Regions from separate parts of the Homo sapiens genome. Here region 1 is linked to region 2. Evidence: fine-mapped expression QTL. A gene starts in region 2. The other region holds a variant in brackets. All regions are shown on one strand. Distances are between the middles of the regions.

The links. PIP is the estimated chance that this variant, and not a neighbour inherited with it, causes the effect. A credible set is the group of variants that fine-mapping cannot tell apart.
Region 1: its variant is the best candidate, but not a certain one, in a credible set for the expression of MYO15A in sigmoid colon (GTEx, PIP 0.68).

What each region holds. Positions count from the first base shown.
Region 1 is chr17:18,135,666-18,138,165 of GRCh38, reverse strand. MYO15A (myosin XVA) reads right to left here. Exons shown (of 66, transcript NM_016239.4): 13 at 2,342-2,455; 14 at 1,691-1,749; 15 at 1,480-1,603; 16 at 487-582; 17 at 1-51. Among named protein-coding and RNA genes, the nearest start is that of MYO15A, 28 kb to the right of the region's middle. RefSeq lists enhancers at 1,062-2,055, 2,056-2,500. The variant G/A (reference allele first, on the strand shown) is at 1,076.
Region 2 is chr17:18,107,308-18,110,319 of GRCh38, reverse strand. MYO15A (myosin XVA) reads right to left here and starts at 1,564. Exons shown (of 66, transcript NM_016239.4): 1 at 1,496-1,564. It overlaps DRG2 (developmentally regulated GTP binding protein 2), which reads right to left. Exons shown (of 13, transcript NM_001388.5): 13 at 2,351-3,012. It overlaps LOC105371566 (a long non-coding RNA gene), which reads left to right. Exons shown (of 3, transcript NR_164159.1): 3 at 1,685-2,629. RefSeq lists an enhancer at 2,621-3,012.

The DNA of each region.
Region 1 (2,500 bases), 28 kb before region 2:
GTCAGCAAAGGTGATCTCCTGCCAGTCTATCTGCTCACGGATGTACTCCTCCTGCAGGCAGTGGGCAGCAGGAGCTCAACCTCCCATCCCTGTCCAGGGCCCACCCACCCTCCCTCCCATGTTGAATCTGAAGGAGCCTGGCCAGCAGCACCTCTGCTTGCATACCTCCCAGAACAGGGAGCTCACCCCCTAATAAGGCAGCATGAGCCAACTCAGGGTCCTGCTGCTCCCTCTGCCTGGGACAGCCCAGTAGAGGAGAAGAAGGACCCCCACCAAGGGGACTCCTCTCTGAGCACAGCACCTCAGCACCTTTCCCTCCAGAACAGAGGCCTTCCCATGGGCTGGTCCCCAGCTTAGAATGCCTTTCCCTCTACTGTCTACTGATGTCAGAATTGCCCTTAAACAACCAGTATATCCTCATCTGTCTCCAAGGAGGTCCACTGGCCAGTCAAGACAGGGACAGGAGTATTAATGGGGCCCACACACCTGCTCCTCCTGGAAGACGATCTTGTTGAAAAGGTACTGAAGGTTCTCGTTTGCGTAGTTAATACACAGCTGCTCAAAGCTGTTGAAGCTCAGGTCCTGCCAGGTGGATGGGGGTGCTGGGACTGGTCCTTCCTTGGCCACCAGCCTGTTTGCCCCTACCTTCCCTGGTGGCAACTTCAAAAAGCTGGAGCTCAGCCACAGGCCCTCAGCTCACAACCCTCCACAGCTCCTGCTGCACCCAGGACAGAATCTGACAGGCTCTGTCCTGACAGCACAGGCAGTGCCTGAAGGCCAAGGCTCTGGGGCCTTCTGCCTGGGTTCAAATGCTGGCTCTGCCATTTTCTAGCTACATAACCTTGAATAACAGCCCCATGCCTCAGTTTCCCCATCTGTAAAATGAGGATACTGACAGTACCTGCCTCATAGGGTTGCTGTAAGGATGAAGTGAATTAACAAAGTGCTTTAAACAGCACCTGGCACATAACAGGTGCCACGTGAGTGCCTGTGATGGCTGCATGGTGATCTTGCCCTGTCCCTCACCACTTCCTTTGCTGTGCACTCACAAAACAGTCACCCCCCAACACACGAA[G/A]TCCAGTCCCAGACCTCATGACCCGCCACCCCTCCCAGCCCTTGCATATTCTGTTCCCTGCACCTACAGTGCCTTTGCTGGGTCTCAGGAGTGTCTCATCCTCATCCAGGAAGCCTTCCCCACCCAGCCTCACCTGGAAGCTCCCCAAGGGCAGGGCCCTGGCTGGTCCTTTCTGGGCAGCTGGTATTGCCCAGCACAGGGCCTGGCCCAGAGGCCTTGGGAGTACTTGTGGTGAGTAAAGAAAATGGAAGGAGACAAGGGAGATGGTGACAGGGAGGGGTCCATGAAGGGAGGATGGCACCTGCTGCAGGCACAGAAAGGGATGGGAAGGGCAGCCCGAGACGCCTGAGGGAGGCGAGACCTTGCCTATGTCCCCCGCCCCTCAGCCTCCTACACGGCCCCACCTCGAAACCATAGATGTCCAGGATGGCGATGGACAGTGTGTCCTGCCTTGGGGACACCAGCGCGTTGACCCTGGTGATGAGCCAGCTGAACAGCAGTGCATACAAGACCTTGGCGATGGCGTCCCTGGAGCAGAGGTGGTGCTGGTGTGAGCAGGACACCGTGGTGGGGTGCTGGGCCTCGGGGCTCAGGCAGGGGAGGGCGTGGCCTCACCTGGCATCCACAGCGCTCTCCACAGTTAGGGGCGTGAAGATCTTCTCTCGCATTGTCTCCTAGGGACGGGCACAGCCCTTGAGTGACATCAGGCTGGCCACTCTGCCTCCGGAAAGCCCCCAGGGGACTAAGGGAGTGGGATCATGGAGAAGGGAGGCTGGAGGGATGTTGTGACTGTGCACACAGAGACTAGGCAGGACCACCCCTGCCCCCACTCTGACTCTGCCTGGAAATGCTGGTAGTAGTGGGGACTGCAGGTCTAATGGGGGAGACAGAGGCATCAGCAGATACAATGAGATCAACCCTGGGAAGGGAGAATGGGCCTAGGACTGTGAAAGACCAGAGGAGGCACTGACCCGTCCAAAGATTAGGGAAGGCTTCTTAGAGGAGGGGATACCTGGATAGGGTCTTAAAGGATGAGTAGGTGTGAAAAGAGGAAGAGCATTCCGGGTAGAGGAAACAGCCTATGCAACAGTCTGAGACTGGAATCTGAAATGTCTCTGGGGTCTGAAATTACTCCCCTCCATGCCTGACCCAGGGACAGAGAGAGCAGGAGAGAGGGAGAGGCTGCCCACAAAGGATCGGCACAAGCAGCTCTGTCCAGGCCCTGGTAGAAAGCTTTGTTCGAAGGCCAGATGCCCACAGACTCACGGTCACTTTGAAGGTGATGGCCTTCTGCAGGCCCTCAGGGGAGATCTGCAGCAGCTCTGCCACGGCCTGGATCTCTCGGGCACTCACCACTGAGGCCACCTCCTGTGCATCCGTCTATGCAAAATACCAACAGGAATGTGCTTTGAACTAGATAGGCTA
Region 2 (3,012 bases):
CTCGGGCTGCCATGTGGAAAAGAATGGAGAGGGGACAATGACACAGCTGGGAGCATGCTGTGATGGTGTACAGCGGACACATTCAGGATGAGGTGAAACAGGCTGGCCCTGGTGAGAGGCTAGATGGGGCTGGGATGAGGGTGGAGACAAGTAGTCTTGGGGTTGGCTTGGTGCAGCTGGGGGGTGCGGGGAGTGTCTCTGAGGTGAGGCCGGGGGTATGGGAACGCCATGTTTGGTCTGGGACACGGTGGGCTTGGGATGGCTACAGGACAGTGCAGTGGAGAGTCAAAAAGGCTGCTCGGACCCAGGTCTGGCGAGATGGAAGCTGGAGGTCAGGTGAGCTGTCTAGGAGAGGGACAGAGTGGGAAGGAGAGGGTCTCGACTCGGCTTTCTTGCCAAAGGAGGGTTCCGAAATGAGAAACTGTGGAATCTAAGCTGGAGAGGAAGAAAGACGGAGAATGAGTGAACGCACACGTGTGGGACAGATAGATGAATATTCATGTCTTTGGCTCCTATGTACCTGAGTCTTCTAAAGCTGCAGGCCATACTACCCCCGGGAGGCTGCAGGGATGCCAGCTGGGAGATGAATGCAACTCTGCTGCCTGGGCATGGGCCTGAGTGAGGGTGCAGACCCCTGCCTGTGATCATCAGGGAGGGTGATGAGAACAAGGTGGCTGACAGGGTGAGGCCCAAGCCTGGAGCTTACCCAGGTGCGGGGATGGGAGGGTCAGAGACCTTTGGGGGGTCTTAGGGAGCTTCCCCAGCCCTAAAGGCACCGCAAGCTGCCACTTCACACTGACCTGGGCATACGCAGCTGCAGGATCCCTTGCTCGCTCTCTCACAAGCAAATGTAGACTGCGCAACCATCCTGACCACAGATCCAGAAAGCCCAGGACATAACAGAGCCGCAGTGCCTGCCCTGATCCACGCGCACACAGATCTAGCCCAGGAACAAGCCCATCCACGGTGAGGAACTTGTGGCCCAGTGGCTGGAGCCTCTCACCTGAGCCCTCACTGCCTGAGGACCCCCAGCCTCTGGCCTCATTTCCCACCCTTTGCCAGCCAGCCTTGGGGACAAAACAGGTCTGGATCTAATCCAAGGTCTGGACTCACCCTGACACCCTGTGAACTCAAGGCCTTCCCTACCTCACCCTGGGCCCAGAGCCCCTACCTGTAAAGTGGAAGTGGGAATGGCCACCAGCCAGGCAGAAACCCTCACTTAGGGCCTCATGGCCAGGCATCAGGACAGTCAGGAGAGGGGCCGAGGTAAGCCACAGAGGCCCTGCCTGTCTTGGTATCCCACCATCGCCAGGAGGGGACTGCATGGGCATCACACCCCTCACAGATGAACAAAGTGAGGCAGAGAAGGGCCTCAAGATGAGTTAGGGGCGAGGCCCCAGCTCTGCTGCTGCCCCTTCCCTTATCACCCCTGCAGCCTGGGATGCGAGGGTGGCCAGTGACAGACCCCAAGGACTCTAGGCTAAGGTCTCCTTACCTGCGTTCTGTGGCCTGCTCCCCGCCTGCATGCCGCCTCATGGGGGTCCTCTGGCTGGCCCAGGAGCACGGTTGGCCCAGCAGAGCAGCTCAGTGTTATGGGGAAGGGAGGCCCAGCCCACCACGCCGACCGCCTGGGGCCCTATGTATATTTAATGATGTCTATTATTCCTGTTTTGTCTCTGGAAAGGAGTGAGCAGCTGACAGGGGAGCCACGAACAGCCTGGAGAGCTGAGCATGGGCCTGCTCCACACTCCAGCGGGGCCCGAGGCCCCCGGGAACTCTACCCCTCCTGGCAGCCTCACAGAACCTGCTGCATCCATCTCAAAAGGCATACCTCCTCCAGGAAGCCTTCCCCGCTGCTCAGAGGTCTTAAATCCGGGGTCTGCACTCACAAACTGTGCAGCCTACACCAGCTTCTGGGGGACAGCAGAACACTGTGGGGGGCCTGGCACAGTCCCTGGCACACGGTAGGCACTCATCGAGCCCCTGCCAGCCCCTCTACTCCTGACTTCTGAGGCAACAGGAAATGACCCGCCACCTTGTTCTCACAGAGCCTCCCTGCCAGCCCAGATGGTCACAAGGGCCTCCTGGGATGCTGCCCACCTTGGCAGCCAGGCCCCTCCGGAGGGGCCAGTCTGGGCCTGACACCCCCGAACACCAACCCCCTGGGCAGAGCCTGCCTGTGCCTGGGTGAGGAACCCTGCAGTCTCCTTGCCACACAAGGCCTGGGTCTGCCTTGGGGCCCAGGCTGCACCCTCTCCGACCCCCAGGCCCAATGTCTGACCTGTGCCCACCTGACTCAACCTGGCTACTGTTCAGCAAGTTTACAAAGTGTTCTCAGTCTGAACAGGAACCGTTTTCAATCCTTTATTTCAGAAAGGAGAGCCAGGAGAACTGGGGACTTAGAAAATACAGATCCTAAACTCAAAAGTCCCTGCCCCAGGCGTGCAGAGCCAGGGTCCTGGGGTTTTGTGCTGGGCAGGGGCTGCCCTGGGAGGGGGAATACAGGGGGAGGCACTTTAGGACACCCCTTAGGCTGTGGAGGGTGTCAGCTGGGCCTTTGAAGCCACTAACCACTGGTTCCCATCATGGAGAGCCCTGTGTGGGGCACCCAAGGGGGTTTCCTCCTGGAAGGGCCCCCAACCCAAGTGTCAGAGAAGCTGGCAAGAGCTGAGGGAGTGAGGTGCCATGACAGCAGCCACAGCCTCCAGGGACCCAAACAGGCCCAGCTACCAGCCTGGCACTGAGCATGCCATCTGCTTTAGGCCCTGGCTGGCGGGCATGTGGGCAACTTGCTCCCTCAGTGCAGGGGGCTGGGAGGCACAGATGCAGGCTCAGCACTACAAACTCAAAACCCCCATGAGAGGGCTCAGTCTTATGGGAAATGCCTCCAACCGAGCCCCTTTGCCCCAACACACTCTTCGTCTGCCTACTGAAGAAACTTCTGTAAATAGCAGAGACTTGAGGGACCCCTTCCTGGGGTACGTGTATTTGTATTTTTCTGTTTGGGTGTTT